Linked DNA regions of Homo sapiens: all the other regions are linked to region 3. Evidence: fine-mapped expression QTL. A gene starts in region 3. Each other region holds a variant in brackets. All regions are shown on one strand. Distances are from middle to middle. Region 1 overlaps SYT9 (synaptotagmin 9). Region 2 overlaps PPFIBP2 (PPFIB scaffold protein 2). Region 3 holds the start of SYT9-AS1 (SYT9 antisense RNA 1).

Region 1 (10,715 bases), 13 kb before region 3:
GGATCACTTGAAATCAGGAGTTTGAGACCAGCCTAGACAACATGGCAAAACCCTGTCTCTACTAAAAATACAAAAATTAACCGGGCATGGTGGTGGATGCCTATAATCCCAGCTACTCAGGAGGCTGAGGCACGAGAATTGCTTGAACCCAGGAGGCAACAGTTGCAGTGAGCCAGCCTGGGCAACAGAGTGAGACTCCACCTCAAAAAAAAAAAAAAAAAAAAAAAAAAAATGGAGCAAAAGCGACAACCTTGCCAGGCCACCCTGAGGTGCATAGATGCATGGAATGTGAGGGACTAAGTGGCCTCTTGAGAGTGCTACAAAGAAAGTGTTGTGACTTCAAAAGAGAACCAGGATTCAGTTGAAGTGAGAAAGTGGATAGAAAGTTTACATGAAGGATTAAGGATGTAGGGGAGGTAGGTGTGGAGCACCAGAGGAAGGCTGGAGACAGTGGAAGTGGGGGCTGGTTTGGAGAAGGGGAAGTACAGGGCAGGATATGATGACAGTAGGGACAAGAAAAGCAACTGGACTGGGGGTGTGGAAAGCACAGCCTGCCAGGTTTGATCTCAAGGGGCAAAGTCTGCTTCACCCACAGGAAGCAAGGTGACCAGGCTATCCTAGAAAATAAAGCCACAGCCATCCTCAGACCAGCTGTTCTCCTAGAGTTGTTTGAGAGAGGGCCTGAACTGTCTCTCCTCATGTACCCATTTATTCGTCCATTCCCCAGTGTTTGTGAGCATTGGGTCTGGTGGGCCCCTGCTCTTCCCACCACCTTAAACCCTCTCCTGCCTGCCCAACTACCACCCCCTCCCCTGTGCCCAGCTAACTTCTCAACTCCTGTCTGCCTTCTCCCCGATGCCAGTCATTGCCCGCCTCCCAAGCAGGCATGCTTTGCCTGTAATATGATCCCTCCGATGAATAATAATCCAATGTTACATTTTCTACTCTATCCAGACCACTGTGCTCAGTGCTGTACAGGCATCCCCAGTTTAACTCTCACCCTGTGAAGTAAACAGTTTTGTCTCCCCAGATAAAAGAAGCTGAGGCTTAACTAATTTATCCAACATCATGAGGCAAATAACTGGCCGAGCTATCAGATTAAGGTAGATGGTATTATTTCTTCATGGTTATATGCCCCAGCACACTCTTGTCAGGGTCTTGACTCCAATGACTTAGGACTCGGGCCTGGGATTTGCTTCAATCAATAGAATATGAAAGGATGACAACATGCCAGTTCCACATGTTTCTACTCACCCCCTTGAACTTTTAGCATCTGTCATGGGAATAACATGCGCTGGAAGACGGGGGCTTCTTCAGCTCGGTCCTGGAACAAGAAGACGCAGAAGTAGATTTCTACCTGTCTGGCAGAGCTGCAGCCAACCACAAACTCATCAGCAAGAAATTAGTGTGTATTGTTGTAAGCAACTAAGATTTGGAGTTGTTATTGTAAGAAAAGCTGACAAAATACAGATTTAAACTCACAGTGTTCCTCCATCTCTGCCTGTTGGACATAGCTACCAAGCTTATTTGGGTCCAAATGCGGACTTACTTCTCTCCACCTGTTAGGAAAGGCTTTCTCTCTTCATTATTTTATCATCAAGATGAATCTCACAACCTACTGGAATTCCAGTTTAACTTTTCTTTTCCTTCTCTTGCCCTCTCCCTGGAAAAAGTTTTACACATGCCGACACATGTCAGCAAACCTCTCAACCTCACATCTGTGCTGGTCAAGCGGCTTTGAAGACACAGCTATACCAGTCAGAGCACAATCAGTTTCTGACATGGTCAGTGTCGGGATCACACAGTAATGCTGGTTTTAAAAGACTTTTCTTTCTCAGCTGTTATTATTCAGCTCACTTAACAATTAAAACTAGAACAATGCCTTAGAATTTTTAAGAAAATTCTTTTGTTTCCATCCTGCTGGCACCGATTCATCATCCTTTATGACTTCACATTCCCAAATGATTTGTGATGTAGGTTTTTTGCTAATGTACTTTCAGTTGTTTTGCTTCTGATGTTTCCTCCCCACCTAATCAAATGCTTCAAAATAACCATAATTTCTAAACCCAGTAGGACATAGGACATGCACTGAATAATATGCACTAAAATTTATTAACAGAAAGCCCTTTGTTTTTAAAACTCTGAAAGCTAATGGAATACTCTTTTTTACTTTAGAAGGCATGCTGTGTTCTGTGTGGTTTTCCCACAGATGTGTTTTTAAATGTTGCATTCTGTTAAGACTAAATGTTGTATTTGCAAAGATTTTACTCCCCCAAAGCAGAACATAATTTCCCTCGCTATCTTAGCTTGAAAAGGCCTGAAGTGAAAATGTATGACTTTGCTTATGCAGCTTTTCTTCTCCTCTTCAGATAAAAGAACCACATTTTCCTTTGAGGACTCACCCCTCTTCCCCCTCTAACCATGTGGTTTGGGTAGAGGCATCCACATCCTCAGCTCCAGGAATGTCTTTGCATCTCCCCAGGCTTAAGCCCAATCATCACATTCAGGGATTGGTTCGGGGTGAGTGTGTGACCCAATTTAGGCCCAGGAATTTTGTTGGAACTATCCGGAAAAGTCACATCTTTCCACTGGACTTGAAGCTGTGAGGATGCAAATGTGGGGTTGTTGGCTGCTATCTCACCATCAAAATAATAGAGTGCACTCCGGGATGGAGTGAAACAAAAGAAAGCATACTTGAGAAGTAGAGAAGGTGATAATGAGTCCTGATGACACTGTCTGAACCTCTGGATCCAGCTGTGCCTGAAACTGTTCCTTGCAAGGGACTAGCATGTACCTCATGACCGACAACAACAAATCTGACATTGCTGCTGGTTGGATTCCAACTCTAGAGAAAGAGATAGCTAGAAAATTAGTCTGCACACACAAAAGCAGAGAAAAAATACACAAAATACCCAGTGGTTAATTTTAAAATGTGAATGAGCAATCAAGGGTCACTAAGTAAGACAGAACTGACAGCATTAATAGAGGTTTATATTTAAAACACACACACACACACACACACACACACACTGAGGAAAAACAAACAATGATAAGAAATCAAATTCAAGTGTAAAATAAATCAAAAGTATAGTAATCTTAAGTAATTAACATGTAGAAAATCTACTCACAAGCACTTCTGCTTGTTGCCACATTGGCCTCAAGTATTAGATAAGAATGTCCTGGCTCCCAGAGGCCTTCTCACTCCTGATTCTGTTCCCTGCAGTTCTCCTCACTCAGAAAAGCTGCTCTCTGACTCTGTCCACTGCTTCTTTCCCACAGAGGTGTAGGTACGTAAGTTGGGGCCATTTCAAAGGCAATCTTCTCTCATCCTCTTGTGCAATGTCTTGAGAGGCTGCTCTGAAGAAGTTCTAATTTTTGACAAAGTTTTGCTTCTATACGGTCAAAATGATCTCACTGGGGTTTCCACATGTTGCTCCTGGTCTGTCCATTAGGACAGCTCTGAACGTCCCCTTCCCTTCCAGAGTGCTTTTGTTTTTATTTTTGCCTTACCCATACTCCTTTCAGAGAGACTGGTCCTTAGAGCAGAACATAAATTCCATACAAGATAGCAATGGAGCCAGTTGCCCAGAGAGCTTTGAACGGGACAGTTATCACACCCTGAGTCAAGTAGAATGCTTTGGGCTTCTAGGAACAGAAAACCTAACCCAAACTCCTTTTTATGAGGTGAGGTTTTGCTCTTGTTGCGTAGGCTGGAGTGCAATGATGCGATCTCGGCTCACCACAACCTCCGCCTCCTGGGTTCAAATGATTCTCCTGCCTCAGCCTCCCGAGTAGCTGGGATTACAGTCATGCACCACCACGCCCAGCTAATTTTGTATTTTTAGTAGAGACGGGGTTTCTTCATGTTGGTCAGGCTGCTCCCGAACTCCCGACCTGAGATGATCCCCCTGCCTCGGCCTCCCAAAGTGCTGGGATTACAGGTGTGAGCCACCGCGCCCGGCCCTGAAACTCCTTTAAAGAATAAAATGAGGCCGGGCACCGTGGCTCATGCCTGTAATCCCAGCACTTTGGGTGCCTAAGGCGGATGGATTGCTTGAGCTCAGGAGTTCTAGACCAGCCTGGGAGACATACTGAGACCTCCGTCTTTACAAATATAACAAAAATTAGCCAGGCATGGTGGCGTGCCCACTATGGGGAGGAGTGGGTACTGTCAGTACAAGCTGGGAAGATACTCCAAAGTGTTTCTGTAACCCCTAGGAGCCAGCCATTGGCTTATCTATCATCAGTTCCCATGACCATCTTCAGTTGTCCTGGTCTCTAGCATGCACACATTCATTCAGCCAGTGTTTACTGAGCCCCGCCATATGCCACATGCTATTCCCAACACTGGGAATAAGGTGTTGAGCAAGGCAGTGAGTGGGGACCCCTGTGCCGTGGAGGTTGCATTCTGGTGGAGGGAGACAGGCAAATTGCATACAGTTGAACAGAAAATAGGTCATCACAAGCTGGACGATGCAAATACAAAGGCAAGATGTGACAGCAGTGATGGGGCACTCCTTTGTGCTGGGTGGCTGGGGAAGGCCCTGAGAAAATGACACTTTCCCTGACTGACCAGAAGCAGACAGCCAAGCAGAGGCCTGAGAAGTGCATTTCCATCACAGAGCAGATGGCCAGCATGCATCTCTGGAGCAAGGACCAGCGTGGCCTGTCCAGAAGTAGAGAGGAGGCAGGTGTGGCCAGGACCATGAGCAACGAGAGGTAGAGTTGTAGGAGAGGAGGCCGAAAGGGAGTCAGGCCAGGGCGCAGAGGGCATGGCCCCTAAGTTCAGATCTCAGTCGCCCTCCTCAGGAGCACCAGGGAAGAGGCCTTAAGCCCAGTCTCCTTCAGCAGGCACCCTCTGTGGTCTCCTCTTGTTTGACAGGCCAGAGGCTCCCAGCTGGCCAAGAGGGCTCAGCTTCCCCACAGGGCAGGATACCAATCCCTAAGTCCAGGTGAGTCGCCCCTTTTCTGACATTGCTGCTCCCCAGTCACTTTTCTTTCCTTTCCTTGCTACCTACCTGATTTCCAGCCCTTGATGAGAGTCCAAGCCTCCAGCTCCCAGAATCACCCTTCATTTTAATACTCAAATACCCTGAGTCCCCACCCTTTCTCTCTAGCCCTTAGTTGATGTCTTCCTCCCATTTGTCTCTGCAGTGGCCTGAGGAATGGTCTTTTTTGCATCTCATGATTCCAGATGATGCTTACCATTTCCGCTCTCTGCTGCACTCCAGGCTTCTCTACAGCCATCTTTAGAGGCCTTCAGCTGCTTCTCCCAGCCACCATCTTCTCCCTGCCCTATCCCCACATCCTATCCCAAGCACGGACACAGTCCCTTTCCCCATTCCCCCAAAGCATGCAAATGCCAGACTATAGCATTTAATGAAGATTTCCTAAGGGCTGGGGATAACACGAGTGAAGACAATGCGAGTAACTGAAATTAAAAATTCTATAGCCAGGGAAAGAAACATCCATCTAATATCATAATTGTCTCTGCCAATAGGAAACTGCCTACGGGGAACACATTTTACATTGTTATGCAGAATAACACAGCCTCTCATTCTGAGATTGGACCTGGGCATTACCTTTAATAACCTAAGGCCCCTGATACCTCCCCAAAGAGCTGTTTCCCCAGCACCCCAACACACTGTCTTGCAGGTGGTTTCTTCACTAGGGTGCCAGGATGAGGAGATGTGTGAAGCTAAAGTCAGCTCAAAGTCAGCTTTCTCTCCACTCACCAAGTGGTGAGTTTGCCTGGAGGAGGCTTCTGTTTCTAAGTCACACAAAGGCCCAATGCTAACAGCATGGCTGAGAGATACATGCCGTGGCCTACTATCAGCCACAGTGTATAGAGGACAGCAGATACACAGATGAGAGAAAACGAATTCAGCTAATAGGTTTTATTTGTTTTGACATTGTGAGTATCTTTGAGATGAAAAGCTAATAGTTGGAATAGTGCCAAAAATCTTAATATTATTAATAACATATCAATAAAAGCCTCTAAACCTTTAAGGATAAAAGAAAGTTTCTTATCTTGTATCCTCTTTTCAAACACATTTAAGGGCCTTTGTTTCTGTCTCTTTCACTGAGAAAAAAAAAGCAAGCTGCAAGACAATACATTTTCTAAAATTAGCACACATTTAATTGACTTTTCAAAATGAAGTTCTATTCAACCTATTAGATGTGTATATTCCATACAACATTCCAATGTTTAAGCTATTTTTTTTTTTTTTTTTGAGACAGATTCTTGCTCTGTCATCCAGGCTGGACTGCAGTGGCGCCATCTCGGCTCACTGCAGCCTCTGCCTCCTGGGCTCAAGCGATTCTCCTACCTCAGCCTCCCAAGTAGCTGGGACTACAGGCACCCGCCACCACGCCTGGTTAATTTTTGTATTTTTTTTTTTTGTAGAGATGGGGTTTTACCATGTTGCCCAGGCTGGTCCTGTACTCCTGGATCCAAGTGATCCACCCACCTCGGCCTCCCAAAGTTCTGGGATTTAGACATGAGCCATTGTCCCTGGCTCATTTAAGCTAATTCTGAGACTTTTTCCCAAATA[C/G]AGAAAAACACATCTGTAAATCACCATTGGAGAAAGAAAGGAGAACGTGAAGGTCCTGGGAAAGGGGTGAAGGCCCCTGCTTGAGGACTTCATGGGGTTGGTACTTAGTCCCTCATGGTATCACAATAGGCTATGCATTCTACAGCTGCTCTTTGTGACCTGTGTAAATTCTGGGCAAAAATGGCCTTTCCCTGGGTCATGTCTGCTAAAGCAAGTATCACCATCCAGTCAGATGGGGCTGATCCCAGCAGGTGCCCAAGAAGGAAGTCACCCACTGTCTAAAAGTCCTACATAATCCTCAGGGTTCATTTTAGGTGCCACCTCCTCCATGAAGTTTCTAGTGAGCAATGCCCCATTTGGAATGAAGTACTCCCTTAATAGTTTGATTGTATTTAGATTGTATTTGATTATACATTTACCACTTACCACCTCTCATTTTTATTTTGTAGTTAGTTGGATACATCTGTCTTCTCTCCTGATGTGAACTCTTTAGGTCTGGGGCATAGGGTCTGTCAGTACCCACTAAATTGACTATTTTTAGTTGATTTGGACTTACTGCAGACCTTTTACTAAACATGGCAATTGAGCTTTTGCTCTCTGATCATGGAGAAGTTTCCAGTATGCAATAGTCAGGAGGCAGGAGGGGGCTGGTCAGTGTGTAAGTACTCAAGGGAGGATTAAAACAAGGTACAGTCTGCACACAGCTCCTCACAGTGGGTGGAGGCACCCAGAGGAGAGAGGCAAGCTGCCTGCACATGCAGCAGGCTGGTTACACCTCCCTCCAGTGTCTTCCCCATGTCAGGCAAATGAGAGCTAGAGGACCTTGGGATCTTGCTCTTTAGCCAGAAAATGGCCACCCTCCATAAGTGGTAATGGTGATATCCTGAAATCAAGTTCACAGGTGAACAGATCTAATGTCCATTTTATTGTTCACTAAAGTTTAGGGTCAGTTGAGAGTGGGTGATAAATATATGACTCTTCATTCATTATCTCTTTGGTATTTATATTTTTGACTTATTTTTTCAGAACTCCATTGGTCCCTATTCAGGAAATGCTAAATTTAAACAGCCCCGTCCTGTTTTGGGACCAGCCACCTAGAGTTCTCAAGTGCTAAAGGCAACGACCTCCTTCCCATCCTCACTCACCAGTAATTCCACAGGGCCAGGCTCAGTGAGATCTGTCAAGGCAAGAGGGGTGCTTCAGCTGATCCCATACTATCACTCAATTCTGGTTTTCTGACTCTCTTATTTGTTTTCAATCCAACCTCTACACTCCTTCAAGTACTAAAGTACAAATCTGAGCATGTAACTCTCCCACTTAAAAATCCTTCAATAACTGCCCTTCATTCTGAACAAGATCAAGATCGAGTTCCCTACCTTGGCATTCAAGGTCCTCTGCGACCCTGCCTCCATCTCCTCCTTATACTTTATGTTGGGGCCACACCTAATGGCTGGTGGTTCACACAGTGCTTTCTATTCACCCCCATGCCCTTGCTTCTGCTTTAACTTTTTCTTGTGCTGTCCTTTCAACCCCTCTTTTCCTGCCTAGATCCAGCCTGTCTTTTTAGCATCTAATCAGTTGTCAGCTTCTTCAGGAAGCATTCTGAAGATCCTGTGGTATGAGCTAAATGCTTCTCGTCTGTGCTATCCTCTCCTAGCACCCTGTGCCTGCCCCTGACATAGCATTTGGTGCCACTTGATATTATCTGTGTGTGTGTCATCCCCAGCACCTCCCACTGCTCCTTGAGAATGGGCCTAAGTGTTATTCATCATTGTATAACAAGCACCTGGCAAAATGCCTGGCACAAAGTCAGCATTGAATAAGTTCTTGTTGGACAGAATTTCAATTTCTTCTATCTTACAACTTGTAAAATGATTTTTACAAGTTTTACTTACTGATTTCTTAGATAAATTCTCCATGTCAATTTTTCTTCAAATCTACAGGCATAGTGGTTCTATTAATGCACCAAAGCAACTGAGAGCTAGCTCTGAATGCCAAAGAGCCAGGCAACACCCATGAGAATGAAGACAGTGGCAGTGAAGGTCCCAGTCATCATCTCAGATGGATTTGCAGTGTCATGAGGGCTCAAACAGTTCTCATAAAGGTCTTTATAAGAGACTTACCTTAGTTTAAAAGGCAGGTTGGGAAACCCATGACCATTTCCTCCAGAAAGCACAGAATTCCTGCAAGCCTGGGGTCACTATTTTGGCTGCCATGCTGTCAGCTTATCCCAGCAATCTTTCAAGGTGCTTCACTGTATGGCATCATTTGCTGTATTGTAAGAATTCTGTTCAAGTAAGAATCAATCAAGCTTCCTTTGAAACAATCACTTTGCATAAGGAAATGGGAGTTTCAAGGATGTATTTATTTGTTCAACAAATATTGATTGAATACCTACTATAGGTGCTGAAGATACATTTTTAGGGACAAAATAGTCAAAAATCTTTGCTCTAGTGAAACTTGACTAGTGGGAGACACAGATGTATTATGTTATAGTGAAGGTAAATGCTATGAAGAATAAAATAGGGCCGGGTGCGGTGGCGCACACCTGTAATCCCAGCGCTTTGGGAGGCTGTGATGGGCGGATCACCTGAGGTCAGGAGTTCGAGACTAGACTGACCAACATGGCAAAACCCCTTCTCTACTAAAAGTACAAAAATTAGCCGGGCATGGTGGCGGTCGCCTGTAATCCCAGCCACTCAAAAGGCTGAGGCAGGAGAGTCACTTGAACCTGGGAGGCAGAGGTTGCAGTGAGCCGAGATCATGCTACTGCACTCCAGCCTGGGCAACAAGAGTGAGACTCCATCTCAAAAAAATTAATTAATTAATTTAATTTAATAGAGCAAGCAATGGGGATCAGAAGTGTGACATAGATTGTTTACTTTTTACAGGGGGTTAATTTTAATGGAGGTAATTGTAGGGCTCACAAACAATTGCAATATTTGAGCAAACACTTGAAGGAGGTGAGGGAGCAAGCCCTGTGGCCATGCAGAAATACACGCTAAGGGAACGGCCAATACAAAGGCCTTAAGGAGGTTCACACGAGGATAGTGAGGAGAGTAATGTGGGGGATGCAGGAGAGAAAAAAGAGAGAGAAGTAGGGGATGAGATCAGAAAGGTAACAGCGGGCAGAGCTCAGGTAACTGGAACCCAGTAGAGCTTCAAAAGTACTTTGGCTCATTCGCCAACATGGCAATTTTTAAGAGAGATGTGACATGATCCAAAGTTATCACTGATCTCTCTGCTGCTGTGTTGAGAATAGACTAGATAATGACAAGGTTGGACGTGAGAATACCCATTAGGAGTCTACTGCTATAATCTAGATGGCAATAACAGAGGCTTGGACAGTGTAGAAGCAAGGAACATGGTGAGAAATGGTTACATTCTGGGTATATTTTGAAGGGAGACCCAATAGGGTTTTCTGTAGGGTATGAGAGAGAAAAGTAAAGGATGATTCCAAGGTTGACCGTGGAAAGATAGAGCTGCCATTAAGTGAGCTCAGGAAGACTGCAGGTAGAGCACCTATGTGGGATGATCAGGAGTTAGACCTAATAGGTTTGAAGCAACTATTGGATATCCATAGGAAAACATAAAATAGCAGTTAGATGCAGGAATCTAGAGTTCCAGAGAAAGATCAGGCTGTAAAAATGGATGAGATGTAAATGGTAAAGAGAAGAGGTCCCAGGACTAAGAACTGGGACATTCTATTTAAAGGTAAAGAAAAGAAGAGAAACCGATAGACTGAGAAGGAGCAAGTCATTGAAGTAGTAAGAAAACCAAGAGGGTTTGGTATCCTAGAAGGCAAGAAAGAAATTGTTTCCAGGAAGAGGGAATGCCCAGATGTGACAAATAAGATGTAAATAAAATGAAGATTAAGAACTGACATTGGGTTTACCAATGTGCTGGATATTGGTGGGGTACTGGTTTGAATAGTGTCCTCCCAAAATTTACATCTACCTAGAACCTCAGAATGTCACCTTATTTGGAAATAAGGTCTTTGCAGGCATGTTAAGATGAGCTTATGCTGGATCAGGGTAGGCACCAAATCCCATGACTAGTGTCCTTATAGGAAAGCCATATAAAGACCTAGAGGGACATACAGGAGACTGCCATGTGACAATGGAGGCAGGAATTGGAGTGATGCAGCTATAAGCGAAGGAT
Region 2 (10,715 bases), 120 kb after region 3:
GAGCACTTGTTCAGGGATAGTGGAGAAGTGAACTCATCTTTGGCAATGTGGCCCAAAGACATGATCCCAGGGCTATTAGCTAATGGTGGGTTCTGCGTTGTCACTGTCACAGAGGCTTTCTTTTTGTTTTGTTTTTTCATTTCAAGCCTGAAAGTATTTTGGTTATTGTTCCCTTGGGTTGTTTGTACAGATCTTCATAGATATTTCTTAGGCATCCTGATCAGAAATATTGCCCCTGTTGTTCTCTTACACAAAAAGAGTGAATTAATTAAAACTTTTTGTAGAAGGCATTAAATGATGCCTTCTAACTCATGCTTCTAACTGAATGTTGGTCTTTTAGATTAAACAAAGCTAAATCATTTATAAGTTAGCTAAATTCATTTGTTAAATTATAATTTAAAAATCATTTCCATATTCCTATGATTATTCAAAAACTGTTTATATCACACAGGAATTTTTAGAGCACCCTACTATAAAGAGCACTCTGTAGTTTTAGTGCCACACGTTTTCAGGTATGCTGACCTAACTTGACCCTTTCTGTTGCTCCGTGAAGCATGATTTTTTCTATTGAAAGGATGGAAAGCCTGAGATGAGGTAACCTACTTGAGATTACACATGGTTAGGTGCAGCCCCAGCCTCCTAATTATTCTTGGTTTGTCCTCTTTCTGCAGAGAAGGTGGTCCCTTGGGGAGGAGGATGCAATAGGAATTCTGTAAATGAATATGGAAGCACCACAAGAAAGTCCCCAGGGATCCCCTGACTTGAAGTTCAGCTGGGCCAAATGAGGGGAACAGGGAACCCAGAGCTCTCAGCCTCCCAGCGCCCAGACCTGGCATTTGTACAGCTGTGTCTGACATGTAATTCTTTCGACATAACTTCTTAAACAGTTGTTAGATCTATTTCTGTTATTTACCCTTCATTTATTCATTTTCTGATTCATTTTCTGATAATATCTTTTAGACTTTAGCTCCTGTTTATTTCTTGTTTTGTTTGAACTTACTTTTTCATATCACACATCCTGCTCCCCACCTCCACCAACCCCGGTTGATGCCCATGGGCCTGTTGCATCTTGTATTCATTCCCTGTCTTAACCTTTTTGCTCTACATGGGAAATAAGAATGGAAGCAAACAGGTGGTGGATAGAAAGCCATCTATTCCACACACAAAGGACACTGAGTGCCCTTTTTATCCTAGTACATCCCACACAGACACTCCCTGTGCCACAAAGTAGATCTCAATTAGCCCCTGATGATAATCCTGGTTTGAACTATAGTTGGCTTAGGACTGACAGCCCTGTCTTAAAAATTGCCACTTTAAGCAAATCAAGCAATAGTGGCAGAATTCCTTTGCAATTCAGAACTATATCCAAATAGCAGGAATTCTTTCCTACAAGTCTGTTTCCAAAGGAGTAAATTTTAGTCAGTTGATCACCTTTTGAGACAAATGTATTAACCAGAACTTTTGGTTGCAAATAACAGAAACTCAGTTTGAACTAGGCCAAGAGGGAACCAACAGGAAGGGCTGGAATATATCTCTGCCTTTAGGCAGCGTGCACCGGGGATGAGAATGCCTCCAGTCTTTTTCTTGGCTTTTGTTTGCTTTTCTGTGCACACTGGGTTCATAGCTGTCTCTTGCTGCAAACCAGCTTTTTCCACGTGGAGCAGGACATGGCCACTGACAACCTCAGAACTGTGGCACCACCACTACCATGCTCTGTTCCCAAGTTTAAAAATTCAGAGGAAGGATTTCAACAAGTCAAGCCTGGATCAAGTGGCAGGGAGATGAGGATCTTTCTAAGAAGATGGCAGCCCTCATTTATACCACATAATTACAGTAAAGGCGATGATCTCAGCCTAGTCTACACAAACAATAGATTCCATTAAAGCAGGGTGCTGATTCTCTGCCAAGACTGATACAAGTCTTCTCTGTTTCTTTTCCTTAGCAAGAAAACAAGGGGAACAATTTGGCTGATCTAGGGTTCGCCACAATTCATGGTGAAGTTTCTTTTTTGGACCTGACATATCCCCTGAAAAATCTCATCCCTAAAATGCAATGTTCTCCAAGGTGCAGAAATCTTGATTTCTTTGAGTATGCCAGCAACCAGCTCTCTGTGCATGAGGAACTTATCAAGAGTAAATTTCTTACTCAGTGACCAAGGGGAGGGATGGGAGAGGTAGGGACAGGACCTGGTTTAGGTTAGGCTAGTATCATTGTACGGTCCAAACTGCCCCTTATGTGGGGACTTAACTATCCCTGCTGGAATCTTGCTGGTCAGTCAGTCCTCTCCCTCCTGGCTACTCACAGTTCTCTCTCTGTCCTCTCCCTGCTGAGGCTGATTGACTATCATGATCAACTCCAGGATCCCAACCATAGAATACCCTGCACAGCTGATACATTTTCCTGAGGCCCCTCTCAGTTAGGGATGGCTTAGAAAATACCCACACCTTAGGCTGTTAATTGCTCAAGCTGCACATTAGGCTTGCCCAGCCACGGCAGTGGTAGCAGTTTGGGTCTTACAGAAACAGACCCTAGGATAACCTGTAAGAATCAAGGAGGTGTGTTGTCACTGTTTCTGAAGACACTCTGGAATATTACTCCCAAGGCCTAGGGAAGACCTTGATATGACAACTCTGTGCTGTGTTTTATATTTGCCTCCGCGAGGTCTGAATTTTAGAGGATGAATTCCTTGTGTCCAAGACTTTTTTCAGCCTCTTGAGAGCAACACTTGATAGACACAAAGGTGGCTTGGCTTCAATGATCTTGACTAAGGGTGCTGAGTTCTTAAAAATATCCATTCGAGAAGCCCTTGTCTTGATTCAGTTCCGTGATATAGGAGAGGTAGTATGTTTCACTGTGGCATTCTTTAGTCAAAATTGAAGAGGATGTGGAAATGTCTGGAGTTAACAGTTCTCCACAGGGCACACAGATCACATGGTTCTCACTATATTTTTAGGTAACTAACCTGAATTACAGTATCAGAAATAGCTCTGACCATTTGAATGAATGGTCTGAAAATTTGAATGAGAAGATTGACTTTTCCCTGTCACATTTGTAGCAATAACCATCAGAACAGAGGGGGAGGAAGTTTGATCAAATATATGTAACACAGCTTACCATTGGCAGGTCTAGCCTAGTGGCTAATGTCATTGGTTGAGTAAAAATTAGCTCTTTCTTATATTCATCTGTGGATTGAGCATCCTTAACAAGTATAACGGGGGTGGATGATACTCTCCTTTATAGTCACTTGCCATCCCACAGTGGGGAACAATAGAAAATTAGCATGTAGGCCAGGCACGGTGGCTCATGCCTGTAATCTCAGCACTTTGGGAGGCCAAGGTGGGCAGATCACAAGGTCAAGAGATTGAGACTATCCTGGCCAACGTGGTGAAACCCCATCTCTACCAAAAATACAAAAAATTAGCTGGGCATGGTGGTGCATGCCTGTAGACCCAGCTACTCAAGAGGCTGAGGCAGGAGGATCGCTTGAACCCAGGAGGCAGAGGTTGCAGTGAGCCTAGATCGCACCACTGCACTCCAGCCTGGTGACAGAACAAGACTCTGTCTCAAAAAGAACAACCCCCTCCCAAAAAAAAAAAAACCTCAGAAAATTAGCACGTAGCATCCTTCAGAATTTGATTGGACTTTCTTCTCTGTGAAATGTGGGCATGGTTTTTGCAACCTGACTTCATGCGTGGAGAGCTGGGCAACTGCTCTATCGCTGACTTACCTAATCAGGAACATGGACAAGACTTTTCAGAGACACCTCAAACCTGGAATCATGCAGGGATCCACTATCCATCCAAGCCTTCTATTTGCAATTCCACTATTAAAGAAGCAGGTATACTTGTTGACCAAGCAAGCTGTCTTTAAAGTAGAGCAAAACAGAGATGTGTCCTAACTCAGTCTTTTAAAATATTTTTCTCAATAAATTGGAATCCCATTTTGATAACCACAAAGCTTATTATGCCTTGATGATGTAGTCATTTTATAATGCAAGAATGATACCAGAACGTGATTGAACCTGTTGCCAGGTTATAAGAATACAGAATATACAGATTCACCCAAAGGCAAATCCTTACCTTAGGCTGATGAGTATTAGCATTCAGCAAGACAATCCTCTTCTTGGCCCTGTTCTCAGATGCTTTCCAAGTTTTTCTCCAGGCAGAGGTGGCATTTGATCCTGGCCTATGCCCTTCTGAAGAACGCAGTTTTTTTTAACATCCTAGTCCTATATAGATCATGAAAACACATGGCTCTGACTTCATCAAAAGCAAAGGATAGTGATACTGTGGGTTTCCATCTGGAACATTATCTTTCACTGCTGTTTACCTTTAAAAAGCTTGCTGGAGAACGGTGATTTTGAAGGACCTGTAGAAGAGGAAGATGCACTGTTCCTCTAGAACAGTGATTGGGGTGGGGGAGGGACCTGTCTGCCATGCACACCACTGCTGTATGGACCAGTATGCCTGCTAGGAAAGGAGTTGGCTCCTCGAATCTGTTATAGGAGGGGCAAATATGAGGAACCACTGTTCTAGGTCCTCTAACAGTGCTTCTAGATTTTCAAATATATTTTAATTACTCAATAGAAACATTTTGTAAGAAACTCAAACATTATGTCAAAGTGCTCTGAACAGTGCCTGGCACATGTTGAGCACAAGGTGCTTGCTGTGTATTTACAGCACTGTGCCTGGACCATATTATATTAGTCTCCATGGAATTGCTTTCACCTTTGGCCCATATTGTCCACTAGCCTCTGAACTATTCTGAGAACATCACACAAAAGTAATGAGTTCTACTGGGCTCTGTTTACTATAAGGGTGTCATGGATATTGCTGATCCCATCACACAAAATCTGTCTATGAAAACGTGAAGTTTCTCCCTTGCTCCGGAATAATTATGCTTCTCCTAGGCAATTGATTTGATTTTACCATACTGATCTGCGGATCCTGTTAACTGATTGTGCCTCTCTTTTTTTACTGGCTGCTAGCGTGGATCTAGATTTTTGATCCCCCTTCTAGCATGTGCTATAGAATCTAGGTCATACATTTTATTAACTGAATTTATGATTTCAACTTTCTTACTCTTTTTTTTGTCAACTAGTAAAAATAGTTACCTCTCTGGGTGATTGTATGGGTAGACCTTTTATTATAATGAAGAATATACTGCACACCATTTGAATAAGGCATAGTTGGTACAGTGGCTTGCTGGAGTCTCTGGAAGAAGTCTTGCCTTTGGTCTTCTCTCCTTCATTTCCTGCCAGAGAATGGGCGGCTGCCAGTGCTAGGTGGCTCCGTGTCCATGTGGACTTCGGCACTGGGGTTCTACCTGCAGAGCTTCACTTGGACACCTGGGTCCTGTTTAATTCTCTGTCCACTGGAAATCACCATCATGTGAGTTCTTTGACAGAGAAGAAGTTGACCTGCTATTAAGAATTATTCTCCTACCTTTTCTTCTCTGGTTCTGAGAAAATATAGATTATAATATATTCTTGGATTCTAGTCAGAGAATTTGATCATGTGAGAACCGGAATATTAATTTAACAACAATAAACTGCCATTAACAAAGAAGTCAGTTGTGATTGTTAAGGTTCTTTGTCTGTGGCATGAAAGAGCTTCCATAACAATGAACAAGACATAGGCTCCAGAGGGGCTGGAGCAGAAGACAGTGGTGTGGCAGCAGGTGCTGCCTGGCACAGCTGGCCTGGGGAGTGGCCCCTGGGCCTGTCCTCTGGCTGCACCTTCAACAAACAATCAATGAATCTTTCACTAGTGCGCATCCAGGGTTTGAATGCGGTATGCTTGGTCCACATTTCTGTTCTAGGACTGGGCATGGCTCTGTTGCCTCCCTCACCTATGCAGTGCATTGGGAAGGGGTGGGATGAGGGGAGGAAGGAGGTGCCTTTTCTCATGGAGGGTGGTGGGAGAGCCCATGCTAAAAGTTGAAATGTGGGGAAATGGCCTAGGACAAGGTGGCCCAACTCTGGGTCTCTCACATCTGCCTCTTTGCACAATTAAGACTTTCCTCTAGGGTGGTAGACACCTCCCTCGTGAATATTGAAGTGCTGATTTCACTGGACCAGCTCAGATTGTATAATACTCAGTTCCACATTTAGCAATCAGATCTACTTTTTCAAACTGCCAAGCCTCTGGGTGGCCTATTGCAGACCAGTCTGATTTCAGTCTTCCATTTGCATGGAGGAAGGAGGTGTTGGGGCCAGCTTGGTGACATTAGCTCCTTCTCTCCTGTCTGCCCACAACCAGGTCAGACACACCCAAGAAAGTGACACCTCCTTTCTCTGCTTGGGACATTTGTAAGATTCTGCCTCTCCTCTGACATTTCACATCCTCTCCCTTTCCTCTCTTTTCTATAGTTTCTGGCTACCTGTAATTTCCTTAGCTTTTGCTCTGGCATCCCTCTGGCTATTATTTAAGTTCTTCTCAAGATGTTTTGTCTTAGCTTGCTTCTCTCAGCTCTAGCACTGGGGAAATGTGATCTGCCAGCCTGGCTACCAAAGCTCTTATTGGAGGGTGGGATTGGGGTGGGAAGGGACGTGTGAATGAAGGGCCTTGTAGTTGACATCCTCCATCCTTCATGCTCACTGTGATGTTCAGGATGGGCCTCCATGCAGCAAGGTGTGCCTTGGCTTCAGGGGACCCTGGCATGAGAATTAGGAGATACCAAGATCTGTGCAGAAGCTGTTCCCATGTAGTCCCTTGGAGAACGGTGCCAGCTCTCCAATCTCCTCAAAGAGCAGACCCTCATTGTCGCCATGCCTCTGGAGGCTGTGCCTCTGGCTAACCCAGACCCAGCATGTCAAGTCAAGCACTGCTGGGCCTAGAGTTTCACAGAGGCCCTCCTGGCCAGGAGTGAGGTCATCCAGGAGGTGGTTGTGCCAACTTCCAGGGCGCACTTTTCAGTGGCATGTGATCTGGTTCTCCTCATGGTAGTTTTGAAATCTTGTGGTTTCCTGTTTTGATGATTGGTTTTGTACATATAATCAGTGAAACTATCCTCACAAATTACATGCATCCCTTATTTCATTTAGAAGTTGGTAAGATGTTTTTCCAACCTTTTAAGTGTATTCTTTTTTTTCTGTCCTCTTTAGTCCCAGGTAAACCACCACAGTGCTGCTAGTAATGAAACCTACCAGGAACGCTTGGCACGTCTAGAAGGGGATAAGGAGTCCCTCATATTGCAGGTGGGTACTTTTTGGTGAGAATCGGCTTATCCTGTTACCTCCTACTATGTAGCTTCCCCTAAGTGGAAGGGAAGC[C/A]CAAGAGATTTTCTCTGTTGGAATTTTTCTCCTTCCAATGCCTATGTTTTTAGAAAAGACTTTTCCTGAAATAAAACATTAAGTAACTGAGGGGACAATTTAACTCTAGACTTGGCTTAGGGGGGCTGTGAATTCAGTCATTCATTTATCATGCACTCCCAAGCACCCGCTTCTATACACTGGCAGCCCCATGACCAGGCTGATTTCCAGGTGCTAAGAATGAACAAAATGGGCCCTGTCCCCCAGAAGCTCCTGAGTCTTGCGAGGGAGGGGAGATATATCCTCATGCCACTAATAAAACAGAGCTGTGGGTGATACAGGCCTAAGGGTGAATGCTAATGAATCAAGTCCAAATTGTCTGAAGCTGGATCTAGACTGATCCCTTTAATGCCAAATCCCCTGGAGCTGGTAACAGGGGCTAAGCCTTTGATAGCTGTCTTGCTTGAAAGAGAGGAGCTCCAAAACCTTTTACGGAGAAAGATCATCAAGGGAGCTTTTTCGCTGTTGAAAGTTTGTGTGCCTTGGTAGGACATAGAGTTAGGTATTCTCATAAGAAGGCTGTTGAAGAAGCAGGCCCAGCACTTTGCTGTGTTAGCTCTTGAAAATATAAATTGATTAAGCAAGCATTTACTCAAGGTCTGGTATGCATCAGATATTAATTAGTGATTTGGAAAATATAAAGGCTAGTATCCTAATCCCAGCTCCTTAAAAGCTTAAAGGGTGATGAGTTAGACTGGTGGTAGAATGAAGGGAGGGGTTGAGCGGGGCCTGGAACCCACCCCAGGCTATGGGCTTTAGCTTGGAGCACTAAGGTTATGAGGTGGCAGTGTGTTTGTTTTTTCTCTTTTTACCTTACTTATTTTACTCTTTCATTGTATTTTATGAACATAAGGGTAATGAATGATTTTAAAAACCTTTAAAATTCTAAAAATGTGAAGAAGCAGGTTAACACTTCGGCCTTTTTTCCAGTGTTGTTGGTTTTTTTTCTTTTGCCTCTATTGTAAATAACTGAGCTCATACCAAATATATAGTTTTACATTCCAGTTTTGTATTTTTCTTCACTTCATTGATTTCTTCATTATAAAATAATTGGGTATCTACAACTTGTGAGATGCTGGTTTTAGATGCTGGGATAAAGCAGTGAAAGAAGCAGACTAAATTCCCATTCTTGTGGATCTTCCATTTGAAAGAGAGAGAGTGGGCCAGGTGCAGTGGCTCATGCCTGTAATCCCAGCACTTTGGGAGGCTGAGGCAGGTGAATCACCTGAGGTTAGGAGTTGGAGACCAGCTTGACCAGCATGGTGAAACCCTGTCTCTACTGAAAATACAAAAATAAGCCAGGCATGGTGATGGGTGCCTGTAATCCCAGCACTTTGGGAGGCTGAGGCAGGTGAATCACCTGAGGTTAGGAGTTGGAGACCAGCTTGACCAGCATGGTGAAACCCTGTCTCTACTGAAAATACAAAAATAAGCCAGGCATGGTGATGGGTGCCTGTAATCCCAGCTACTCGGAAGGCTGACGTAGGAGAATTGATTGAACCCAGGAGGTGGAGGTTGCAGTGAGCCAACATCGCATCACTGTGCTCCAGCCTGGGCAACAGAGCGAGACTCCATCTCAAAAAAAAAAAAAAAAAAAAAGAAAAAGGAGAGTGTGAATTGACAATAAGCCAATACATTAACTATTTCAGGTGCTGGTAAGAACGCTGGAAAAAAGTAAAGCAGGATGAGGATTGTGTAGTAAAAGGAAGATCTCCTTTACAGGAGGAAGCCAAGGAGGGAGCCATGCAGATACCTGGAGAAGTGCATTCCAGGCAGAGCAGGCAGTCAGTCCAGCCCACACACTGAGGCAAGAGTGTGCTTGGGGTGTGGGAAGAACAGCAAGTGGCCATTGTGCCTGCAGTCTGTGCTCAAAAGGGTGGTGCGAGCTGCCTTTAGAAAGGTAGCAAGGGCCAGATTGAATAGCACATTGTAGCACAGATGTTTGAGGGATGTGTAATTTGAAACTCTTATCCCAATGACATGATTAATGAAAGAGTATCCAATGTAAGATTTTGCAGCAAACAGTATGAAATTGCAAACTTTTGAACCAGGACCCTTCATGATTGAAATAGCACATTCCTATTTACAGAGGATTACAATTTAATTTTTCAAAGTCCTGTGTAATAATGCTCCCTTTCACATTCATAGTTTTCTAAAATTCCAAATTCTTGAATAATCCCCATTTAAATAATCCTAACACAATTGGGAAGCTGCTTGCCAGTAAAGTCAGAAGTTGACCCTAGTAGTTTCTACTCTACTGGGAGCTTATGGGCAGACTCCAGGAGTGTCTGTTAAGTGATCACTGCTGTTCTGCAGTGGAGCTGGTTAGGCAGATTCTCAGCAGGGTAGAGCCTCTTGCTTAATGCACACAGCAGCTTAGCCAGACTGAATTAATTTAGAGTCCTTGGCCCAGAAAGTTTTCCTGGTTCTACTCATAGAACAAGGCAAATCACACATAACAAAATACTTTGTTTCTAGGATTAGTTAAAAACAAAACCAGAATCTCTTGTATCTTCATTATAATGTAACTCCTTAGGAAAAGGATTTTTATCCTTTTTTTTTTTTTTTAACTTCTGTATCCTCCAGTACCTAAAATTATGCCTAGCATCTATTAGGGTCTCAAAAATAGTTGTTTTTAGTGAACAAAGGTCACATTTTATGACCTTTATGTATTTTGTCTGGATTTCCTACATCCCTTCATTTGTAATACTTAGAATCAGCGTTGAGGTTCAGAAAGCCCCTGGAGCTGAACAATTAGCTATAGAATGCTAGAGATCCTATGATTCCTTGAGTATCACCAACACATGGCCTCAAGGCATGGTATAGACCATAGAAATGTTTAACCCTCATAATAAGATTAACCAGAAAACATCCTTCACAAACAGAAACTCTGGATTCCAGTGAGCAAAGCCCACCCCCAGAGTCCTGCCCTTTTGAAAGTAGAGTTAGTTCAGGATGGCTGAGAGTGTTGGGCCACAGGGATTAATAAACACCCACCCACAAAGGTTTGCGTGTAAGGTGGACCAAGTTGATAGAAAGAGCCCGTTCTTGTTTTTTTTTTTTTTTTTAACATTTTTTTTGGTTAAAAGTGGAATGTTAACCATGTGTCAACTCCAGGAATATGTTTCAATAATTCATTAATCATTTGGGAAAATAAAAATGGAGATCTTAAAGTAGGCATATTAATTTAGATTAGTTCCTTTTTAAACAGGCGCTTTATAATTCAGAAAGTTTATCTAAACACTCATAAATGAATTCACATCAACTCATGCACCATCTATTATTCCATTTCAGACTGAGAAATAATTCTGGATAATCTATATGTAAATGGCAACAACTCTAACCAAAAAGGTCTAAAGGATCTCAGTTTATCAACTGCTAATTTCTTCACTTTGGGGAGGAC
Region 3 (10,715 bases):
AAGGTGAGGCATGAATGAGATAAGGTATGCAAAGCTCTTAGGATAGAGCTAGTGCTTAAGCACTCAATAAATAGTAGTTGTTGCCCAAATGGACCCTTTCATTTTTCCATGCTACTGGCCCAATCTCCTGAAAGGCAGTATAGTCACATTCATACTGCTTTATTTCTTTAACATACTTGTTCTTAAAGCCGAGAGAGGAAGTAAAAAAAAAATAGAATGTCCTCTTTACAGAAAGAAGCTAATCAGATTGTAAACTGGCAGCGCGTGATAATTTTTCATATATTTGTAAAGCTGTGCTAAGCAACAGTCAACAAAATCAGATTCTAAACCAGCAGAGCATGATGAATCTTCATATATTTGCAAAGCTGTGGTAAGCAATAAATAGTCAACAAAATCCTGAGATTTTTGTGCTTTTTAAATAAAATTTTAAATGTAAATTTAACAATATTAAGTACATAATAAGATTAAATCATGTAATAAGAATCACTTCCATTTTTGACAAGCTTCTTAGTTCAGAGCCCTTAGGTACTTCCTGTAATAAAGTCCCATTTTCAGATTCACAGAGAGATATTATCTAATGTTTCACTCTGTCTTTTCATGTTCTTAATTTGGGGTCTGTTTCAATGGCCTGTCTCATATCAGCTGTCATTTTTGTGATCGAAATGTCACTTCACATTACAGTTTTCATTAGGACAGTTCTCATCTTTGGTTTCAATTCAATTTAATTCAAATTAGATCCTTATGTCTCAGGACAATTGAATTCACTTACAATCTTCTCTGTTCAGATAGGATTGTAACCACTACTTCCTGTTGATACTACTGGAGTTGTTGGTACCTTCTAAACCCCTGGTACTGCCTGGGAGCCCACCAGGTCTCATAACAAGGACACTGCTGCTTCTGCCCATGGAAATGGGGCTGGCACCAGCACTGGAACCAGCCAAGCTAGCATTATGCTCAACAGTTATTAAACCACCGTTACTGTCTCCGGTGTTGATGACTGAGTCTCTACCACCTTCCTCTCAACAAAATCCCACTGGGTCAATGCTTTTCTGAATTATGGAAAAATCTTTCTTTTCTCACATTTTGTTTTATACAATTTTTGGCTGAAAAACAGCTCACTAGGTTATAGGAGTTTGGAAAGGTGTAATTTGCTTATTTTGTTTGATTTGGTTGAGATTTTCTAGTCTTCCCCCAACAGAAGCCAGACAAAAGGGGGCTGAACAACAACAGCAAAATTTACTCATGTCTTCTCCTGAGACAACTTTTTCAGAACTGACTTGTATGCTTGACTTTCCCTAGAATAAGTTTGTTTTCAAGAGGCTTTTCTTGCAATATTGCTGGTAGCAATGACCCTATCACGACACCAGATGTATTGAAACTCCTTAATCCTGTCATCTTGTGGGCTTGGTCCCAGCTCACAAGCATTCTAGGACCTTAGTGGCGCTGTCCAGAAGAGGAAAAGATTCAGAGCCCAGAAAACTCACCCAAGTGAAGGGCTGCACCTTAAGAAGGGGGAGACCAGTAGGCTGCACCGCCGTATTTCCAGAGGCTGACCTTGATTCTGGCTAATTACACACACAAGGAAATTCACCAAATGAGCAAAACCCAGCTATGGAGTTCAGGTGGGAGCTGTGCTATGACTTGGCCATTGGCAACAATGCCAATGCTAGTGGTATCCCTGGGTATGGGGACTGGTAAAAAAAATTGGCTAAGGTTGCAGCCTAGCCCTCTAAGCAGGCTTTAGACAGGCCATAAGAAATCAGGTACAGAGGTGGTCCCTAAGGCTGGGTACTTTGGGAGAGCTAAACCCAAAGCATTCTGAAGGAACTGCTTAAATGAAGAGGTAAAATTAGGTCATAATAGGGAAAAATGAGGTTGTGCACAGAACTGTGGGGGCAAACAAGATACATATGCATGTCACTAGCTGGGGGAATCCAGAGAAATGGGATAAGCAGCTAGGAAACCATAAGTGGGATGTGGCACCTGCTGTATGCTACTAGTTTGGACTAGGGTTCTTAAAGGAAGCTCATCTGGCTAGATTTAGGGAGTCTAGAAAGCCAAGGCAGATAAAGTACTTTTAATACATCAGAAATGTAGACTGGACCTACAGAGGGAATTGACATAATTGCTAAAGCTTGGACTTTGAAATTGGAAGTCTTGGGTTTAAATCTCAGCTCTGACACTTAGTCACAGTGTGGCCTTGTGCAAATTAGTGTCTCTACAACGCTGCATCCTCCATTAAAGAACCCCACGGGGTCTTTTAAGAACTTGTAAAGTCCATATCCCAGTGCCTGGCATACAATAAGTACCCAAAAATGAAGGAATATGGGCTGATACCATCACAACTAATTCCAGACCACATTCATTGGTGACACTGAGCCTGTTAACAATTTGCTTTCTCTGATGGGAAGGAACTCAGGAATTGGCAAACTGATATGGGTATGGGTTTCACAGTTGAAAGAGCGGCTAGGGAACCACGGGCCTGATGTAGATGGTGGCTTAGAAAGTAGAGCTATTCGGGGCCAGGCGCGGTGGCTCACGCCTGTAATCCCAGTACTTTGGGAGGCCGAGGCGGGCGGATCACGAGGTCAGGAGATCAAGACCATCATGGCTAACACAGTGAAACCCCGTCTCTACTAAAAATACAAAAAAAAAAAATTAGCCGGGCGTGGTGGCGGGCGCCTGTAGTCCCAGCTACTCAGGAGGCTGAGGCAGGAGAATGGCATGAACCCGGGAGGTGGAGCTTGCAGTGAGTCGAGATTGCGCCACTGCACTCCAGCCTGGGGACAGAGCAAGACTCCATCTCAAAAAAAACGAAAGTAGAGCTATTTGGATGGTGCTCCAGGGTAGCAGCTGATCTGGCAAACTGATATTTGAACCACAATATTAAGACAAATATCATTCAGTCTTTCTTCCTAGACACAGAAACAAAGACCCCTTTCCCAGAGATGTGTGTGTGTGCCCACACACATGCACACACTTCAAAGCCACGGGTCACAATCAAACGTGGTTTCCCTTTGCAGTGAACACACTGGCTTTTAATACTTTCCTTAAGTAAGTTATAGCCTCACATGTGAACTTTTGATCTCTGAAATGAAGTCCATAAATTTCATTGTCAGAATGGTTGCTACTCTTTTATAGTTTACGTGTAAATTTTGTTATTCCTATATCCATAGAAGTCACTTCAGTTTTTTCTCTCTATGGCCACAGTATTACTACATTTAATCTGTGCTGGAAGGTGCCCTGAGTTTAAATTAAGTTGAATGCTGGGCTGAGTGTGAAACACAAGAGATACTGCTAGTCTAAGTCTGGGGCTTCCTTAAGAGAGCCCCTCCTTCACATCTCGGAAACAAGGAATGATGTTGCACCACTCAGACCTCATCTTTCCATCCCAGCTGTATTAGTCCATTTTCACGCTGCTGACAAAGACATATCCGAGAGTGGGAAGAAAAAGAGGTTTAACTGGACTTACAGTTCCACATGGCTGGGGAGGCCTCAGAATCATGGCAGGAGGCAAAAGGCACTTCTTACATGGCAGCAGCAAGAGAAAATGAGGAAGAAGCAAAAGCAGAAACCCCTGATAAACCCATCAGATCTCGTGAGACTTATTCACTATCACAAGAACAGCACGGGGAAGACCGGCCCCCATGATTCAATTACCTCCCCTGCCGGGTCCCTTCCCACAACACGTGGGAAGTCTGGGAGGTACAACTCAAGTTGAGATTTGGGTGGGGGCACAACTAAATCATATCACCAGCCTTACCTCCGACCACTTCATTCCTCACACTACAGTCCAGTCACACCAAATTGTGATGATTCCTTCAATGCACCATGCCCTTTATTGCATTCTGCCTTTGCACAGTCTCTTTCCTCTACCCCAAGTGACCCTTCTTCTTTCCAGAGGGATTCCTCTTCAGCCTAAATGGCTTAGCTCAAGACTCATCAATCAGAATGCTCTCTATAGACCTCCTCAATCCCTTTGAAGTTACTTTCTCCCTTCCCATTGCCCCTGCAGTATTCTATGCAGCTTCTCACATCATAATATCTCCATCTGTGAGCCCTTTGAAAGCAGGGGGAGTGTCCTACTTATGGGCTTAGTATCCCCAGCATCTATTACCATGCCTGGCACTTGTTTGGTGCACATTAAAAATGTATGAATGGGCCAGGCACAGTGACTCACGCCTGTAATCCCACCACTTTGGGAGGCCGAGGCAGGCAGATCACAAGGTCAGGAGTTCGAGCCCAGCCTGGCCAACATGGTGACACCCTGTCTCTACTAAAAATACAAAAATTAGCCAGGTGTGGCGGCGGGCACCTGTAATCCCAGCTACTTGGGAGGCTGAGGCAGGAGAATTGCTTGAACCCAGGAGGCGGAGGTTGCAGTGAGCCAAGATCGCGCCACTGCACTCCAGCCTGGGTGACAGAGCAAGACTCTGTCTCAAAAAAAAAAAAAAAAGAAAAAAAATGTATGAATGAAAGCCAAATTATTTTTTTGTTTTTTCTTCCTGCAGAAACGATGACCATGGGTAAGAGGACTGCTTGTGCCAAGGACAAAATAGGACAACCATCTCACAAAGATCTTAAGTAACTTTTTCCATCCAGCAACATCCAGACGATTTCAGTGACCAAATGCTCAGCTGTAACCACAGCACTAACTGGCCTTCTTTCCAGATTGGGTTTGGTGAACCTGAATGGTCCAGCCACCTTCTGCAGGTGGCCCAAGGTGATGTGCTGCAGGGAAGCATGTCTCTCATGCCAAGAACCAAGATCGGACTATGAACAAAAACAAATGATAGATATAGTGACAGTACCAAGAGTACCAGGACTCAATGTTTCATATGAAGCCCTTGGTGATGAGGACATAGCATCTGCCCTGGAAATCGTTATTCCAACATAATATTATTTTCTAGAATGCCCTGGAAGGACAGAATATTTAAAAATATATCCAGGTGCTAAATAGGCAGCAGATCTCAATTCACACATGACTACCTTTGAGCTAATGACTGTCTCCAGAAAATAACTGTGCCCCAAGAAGTGCTCCAGATTTGCAAGGAATAGCCCCAAGAGAATACCAAGACAAGCAGGCTGTTCCCTGGAAAAAATCTAATGCAAGGAGGGCTAGTTCACAGCAAATTCACTGCCTCCTCCCATGCACGTGGTAGAGAGTACCAGTATCAACATGGCCCTGTTTTCTGCTAAAACCAGATTTTGAGGAATCAGAGACCCCCAACACTACTCACTCAGTAGCTAGCAGCCCCTTCCTTTCAACTGGGAGTGTTATTAGAATGAAAAGTAATTAGTTAGAAGGGCATACATCTCAGTGGCATGAGCATTGTGGAATATCCTTTCCTAGGCACATTCGTCCACTAAGGGAACAGCCTCAGAAACTGGTACAGCAATGGGTGAGATGAGATCATGGAGAGAGAACACAGCCATCCCCTATAGAAAGGCACAGCTTTTGGGCTTCTCTGGCCTGAATGCCTTCTGGGGTATTTCCATATGCAACAGCCCAGAGTCATAGCCTTGGGCAACCACACATAGAGGTTTCCTTCTCACTTCAGACACATACATCACTTTCACACCACTTGGGGATGGAAATACCTACAAGAGTGAAGGTCAAGGGCCCTCCCCAGGCATCTCATTCATTACTCAGCTTCCTTCCTGACCAAGTCTGCCAACCAATGGCCAGCTATGCGCCTCATCCTCATTGCTTCTGCCTCCACGTAAATGAAACCAAAGGCCTCAGCATATCCTGGGAGGACTGGGGGCTGTTACCTAATGGTCCTCTCTGTCCCATTATAGGTGCAAGGCACCCCATCCACACATTTGCACCACTACTCCAAGATAGTATTTTTCTTTTCACACAATCTCTTTACAGCAGAATCCAGAGTTGGATTGTAGTTTACCTTCCTGGAAAGCTCATTATCTCTGTTTGAATTAACATTTCAGCATGGAACTAACTGGGCGGAGGAAGGATCGTTATACGTCTTCAGAAAGTTCTCATTGCCCCAGCTGCCTAGTACTATACAAGAAGCTCTACTTTGATGGCAGATCTAAGAAGGCTATAGGCCTTTGTTTGTAGGAAGCAGTGTCATTACATTCAAGCTTCACTTCTCTGATTGGCTTCCAACCACTGGGATTCAAAGAGAATCCAAGGTTCTGCCTATGTCTGATGACATAAGGAAAACTTGGCTTCCTCTGCTCAAGGTTCCCCTCTGCTCATCCCTCCTCATTCAGACATCCTCCACCATACCAGTGTTTAGAAGCAAAACATGAAGGGCTAGCGCCACCAGGATAGTTAGCAGAAATATTGTCTGTAAAGCTAGGCAGATGAGCCCAGAAGAATGGTCCCAGAGAAAGCAGACTGGCTCCAATAGATATCAGGCAGCAATCCCAATAAATTCTGACATGTCCTTGGCAATGGAAGCCTGGGTTGGAGATCCTGAGGCAGCTGTGCCTACTGTTCCCCACCTCAGAAGCTTCCTGCCCAGAGAGCCAGCAGCCTTGGGATACTAATGAGGATGCAACTGGCTTATTGGTATGAAATAGAAGGTGGCTTTGTAGGGGCAAGCAGGCAAAGAGTACTATCCACATGGCAGGCAGGTGGCTTTGTGTCTGGAAAGCTTTGCCTAGCCAGTACAGCTGTGAGCAGAGGCTGGTTATAAATTTGAACTCCCTCAGCCCATTTGCAACTCTGCCTCTGTTCTCTTGCATTCTGTTTGGTTGCCCTTTAGTTTCCTAGTAAATGCTCCTTTTGAAAAACTCCAACCTTGTCTTATTTAACTTGGGGGAAGGGGATTCTCCAATGTCTTTTCCAGGATAAAGAAGGAAATTAAAATACCATGAAAAAATGGACATGGCAGTAGAAAGGAAACATTCTGATCAGACCTTGGGAAAAGCTGGTGCCGAGAGAGGGAGAGGCCAGGTGTCCCCCCACCCAACTGGCACTGATTCTCAGCCCCTTCCTCTTACTTCTGTTGGCTTCAAGGAGACCTGCCCTTGATGTGTGTTGCTGCTGAAGCACCCTCCCAGCCAGTGAGTTGGACATATGCAGCAGGCACTTTGATGTCCAGGAAGTACACTGGTACATGACAGGAGCAAGGGTCAGGGAGGGGAGGGGAAAGGTTTCTACAATGCAGATGTTTTCAAAATTCTCCAACAATCATGACTCTAAATGGTATGATTTAGGGCTGGGTGCAGTGACTCACACCTGTAATCTCAGCACTTTGGGAGGCCAAGGCGGGAGGATCACTTGATACCAGAAGTTCAAGACCAGTCTGGCAACATGGAGAGACCACCATCTAATTTCAAAAGAGACCCCCCGCCCCCCCGGCTAATTTTTAAAAAATTAGCAATGTACCTGTAGTCCCAGCTACTTAGGAAGCTGAGATAGGAGAATCGCCTGAGTCCAAGAGCTTGAGGCTACAGCGAGCCAAGATTGCAACACTGCATTTCAGCCTGGGTGACAGAGCAAGGCCCTGTCTCTCTAAAAAAGAAAAAAAAAAGGTATTGTTTAGTTCACATGGCCATCAGTAGAACTACATTTCATATGATGAGAAGAAAATAATTATTTATTTTACACTTGAGTCAGGGAGACTGACAAAGGATAGGTATGGAAAATGGCTTGCTATTTTCATGGCCACCCTGTCCTGCAATGCGGGGGGTGGGAGGGGGGACATTCCAATGACTTACTGCTGCATGACAAAGCACCAAAACATAGTGGCTTAAATAGAAATATATTGTCTCTCATGATTATCTGAGTTGACTGAGCTTAGTTGATGCTCTCCCCTGCAGTCTCATGGTTGCTCTCAGATGGCATCTGGGGCTGGCATCATCTGAATGCCTGCCTCGGATGGATGTCCATAATGGCTTCTTCACTCACATCTGGCTCTGGAATTGAGATAACTGGAACAGCTGCAGAATGGCTGGACATCTCTCTCCACATAGTCTCTCCATATGGTTAGTTCGGGCTTCCTCACCACAGGGACATCTCAAGATAGTGTTCTGATAAAGTGACTGGCTTCCTCCAGAGCTAGCATTGCAAGTGGTCCAGCTAGATGCTACAAGGTTCTGTTAAGTAAGTTCTAAAGGAACCTAGAGTCATTTCTGCCACATACTAGGGTCAAGAGCAAGTCATAATCTTGAATCAGCCCAGATTCAACGGGAAAGAAATTACACAAGAATGGAATACGAGAAGGTGTGGCTCATCAGGGCCATCTTTGGAGAAAGTGGGGATGGGAGTGGGAGTGGGGAGGTTAATGAGTTAAAGGGCTTCCTAGGTAGCTGTCATTTTAAAAGCACATCGAATGCTCAACACACATGGAGAATGCAATGAGTAATAAGGGGTAGAGAAGAAGGGAAGAGCTAAACTGGACAGTTAAACAGTATAAGCTAAAGAAAAGCAACCGATTCTGACTGATACAGTGCTTATGAACTTTCAATGAAAACAATTTTATGCAAAGTAATTTAATGAACTGAGAAAAGGACACTAATATGGATGTGAATATAGCCAAAAACAATGTCTACTGCCTGTATGTGGCTCCTGATAATTCTGCAGGCCACTTAGCTGCCCCTGGCCACCCACTTCACTGATAGCCACCTGGGACTATTGAGGGTGTCTAGCTTAGGAGTGCCCAGCCTCTGGTATTGCCATTCAAACTCAACCCAGAGAAGAAGGCTCACCTGTTGCTTACTGTGCCCTTCCACATCCTTACAAAGAGTATCTCTCTCACACAGGAGTCCTGAGTTGGTTGCTGGCACAGACCACAACCAGAGGCTGAGTGGCCAGTGAAACTCCTCTGAGACTCAGGTTTTCTCTCTAATGGGAATTCCTGACTCTTCCTTCTTCAGTCCTCTCTCGGGACCAAAGAGGAAGGACACCCCTCAGTATCCTTTGGCAATCACCGTGGACACTTCCGCAGCTATAGAGGTGTTGCTTTGGGATCATCTAAGACAGAGTCAAGCCTTTGGCAATGTTCAGGAAATGCTGGTATGTCTCTGAGATCAGCTTTCAAGAGGAGAGGCATGTTATGAATGGGGCCTTTCTGGGATAGCATACACTATTCTTTGTTCGTTCTTTCTTTCTTTCTTTTTTTTTTTTTTTTTTTTTTGAGATGGATTTTCGCTCCACTTCAGGCTGGAGTGCAGTGGCACAATCTCGGCTCACTGCAACCTCCGCCTCCCAGGTTCAAGCAATTCTCCTGCCTCAGCCTCCTGAATAGCTGGGATTACAGGCGCCCACCACCACACCCAGCTAATTTTTGTGTATTTTTAGTAGAGACAGGGTTTTGCCATGTTGGCCAGGCTGGCTTCGAACTCCTGACCTCAGGTGATCCACCCGCCTTGGCCTTCCCAAGTGTTGGGATTACAGGCATGAGCCACCACGCCCAGCCCCACTATTCTACTTTCTATCAAGTGCATTCCAAGATAGGCTGACCTTCATGGAAGAAGTGAAATAGAAAACTGAGGAAAAGAAAATAATTGGAAAAAAAGTCCCACAAGTCAAGAAAGTACCCCAAGGAAGACTTACAGGACAACTTCCAAGGCAAATGGGAAAAGAGAACATTGGCAATCTAGGAGCTGCAGGAGAGAGCCCTGGTCTTCATCCCTAAGCCCAGGATGAATGTGAGGCAAAAATAGTCTCTGTTCTTTTGGAGGAAGAAAAAGCGAGTGAGCAAGCAAGCAAGAGAGAGAGAAAGAGATAGAGAAAGAAAGAAAAAGAGGGAGGGAGGAAGGGAAGGAAGGGAAGGAAGGGAAGGAAGGGAAGGAAGGAAGGAAGGAAGGAAGGAAGGAAGGAAGGAAGGAAGGAAGGAAGGAAGGAAGGAGCAAGCTCTGAGCAGTGCCACAGACCTGCTTCCAGTGTCCCTGATATAAAGCTCTCTTTGCTCAGTCTCCCAAGAGAACAGATCAAGCTTCTCCCAAGGACTATGGCAGGAACCCACTTCCTTCTTCCACTCAAAAGACTTGTCACTTGCTGCTGGGATCCCTGGGCATATGGGCTGCAAAATTCAACTAGCTGCGTGATCACCTCTGTCACCTCACTCCCTGGTGTCTTCCCACTTGTGTCCAGGAGCTCTGGGCCTGGGAAGGATTAACAACAAAGATTAAAGATGGCCCACAAGGCCTCAGAGGATCAGGAGCCAGCCCTGAAGTCCAGAAATTTTGACTAAGCCTCTGTCATTAGGGTCTCCCAGCTCATCCATAGGCTAATGCCAAACTTTCACAACAGCTAGTGGTTCTCATGACACCTCCTCCTGGTAGAAAGGAAAGAATAAGTCAAAAGGACCTGGGCCACAGATTCTGTCCTCTTGAGTCATTGATTTTGCCTCCCTAAACTATATCTTAAGATAGATTACTCTGTGAAAGCTGGATGACCATTGCCAGACAATTTAAAAAGTATATATATCAATATGAAATGGATTGATGATAATATTGCATATTATAGTTTATAGCACATGGATGGTATTGCTTTTATCCATTTTCTTTATTTTTTGAAAATTGAATTTGTGATTTTAAACATTAAAGATAATAGAAAAATTAATTTTTTGGCTCAATACTAGATTTATTATAGCTATTATTCCAATAATTTATTCATTGAATTAAAGTTATTTCAAAACCATTTGACATAGGAATATTGATAGTTTTTTTTTCTACCAAGTGAACATCATCTTCAAGACATTCACACAATTTAGATAAAATTCCTTTTGCACAGCAGC

Evidence for each region. PIP is the estimated chance that this variant, and not a neighbour inherited with it, causes the effect.
Region 1: its variant is the best candidate, but not a certain one, in a credible set for the expression of SYT9-AS1 in blood mononuclear cells (TOPMed, PIP 0.56).
Region 2: its variant is the best candidate, but not a certain one, in a credible set for the expression of SYT9-AS1 in whole blood (GTEx, PIP 0.50).

The regions. Positions count from the first base shown.
Region 1 is chr11:7,449,119-7,459,833 of GRCh38, forward strand. The region is part of intron 6 of SYT9 (synaptotagmin 9); the gene reads left to right. It overlaps SYT9-AS1 (SYT9 antisense RNA 1), which reads right to left. Exons shown (of 5, transcript NR_103855.1): 3 at 8,678-8,841; 4 at 1,255-1,324. Among named protein-coding and RNA genes, the nearest start is that of SYT9-AS1, 11 kb to the right of the region's middle. RefSeq lists an enhancer at 2,446-2,957. The variant C/G (reference allele first, on the strand shown) is at 6,555.
Region 2 is chr11:7,586,027-7,596,741 of GRCh38, forward strand. PPFIBP2 (PPFIB scaffold protein 2) reads left to right here. Exons shown (of 24, transcript NM_003621.5): 4 at 7,106-7,198. It overlaps LOC105376535 (a long non-coding RNA gene), which reads right to left. Exons shown (of 4, transcript XR_007062579.1): 2 at 4,080-4,368. Among named protein-coding and RNA genes, the nearest start is that of PPFIBP2, 77 kb to the left of the region's middle. The variant C/A (reference allele first, on the strand shown) is at 7,274.
Region 3 is chr11:7,462,281-7,472,995 of GRCh38, forward strand. SYT9-AS1 (SYT9 antisense RNA 1) reads right to left here and starts at 3,555. Exons shown (of 5, transcript NR_103855.1): 1 at 3,473-3,555. SYT9 (synaptotagmin 9) reads left to right here. Exons shown (of 7, transcript NM_175733.4): 7 at 4,512-6,763. The coding sequence ends at 4,520. RefSeq lists an enhancer at 5,642-5,701.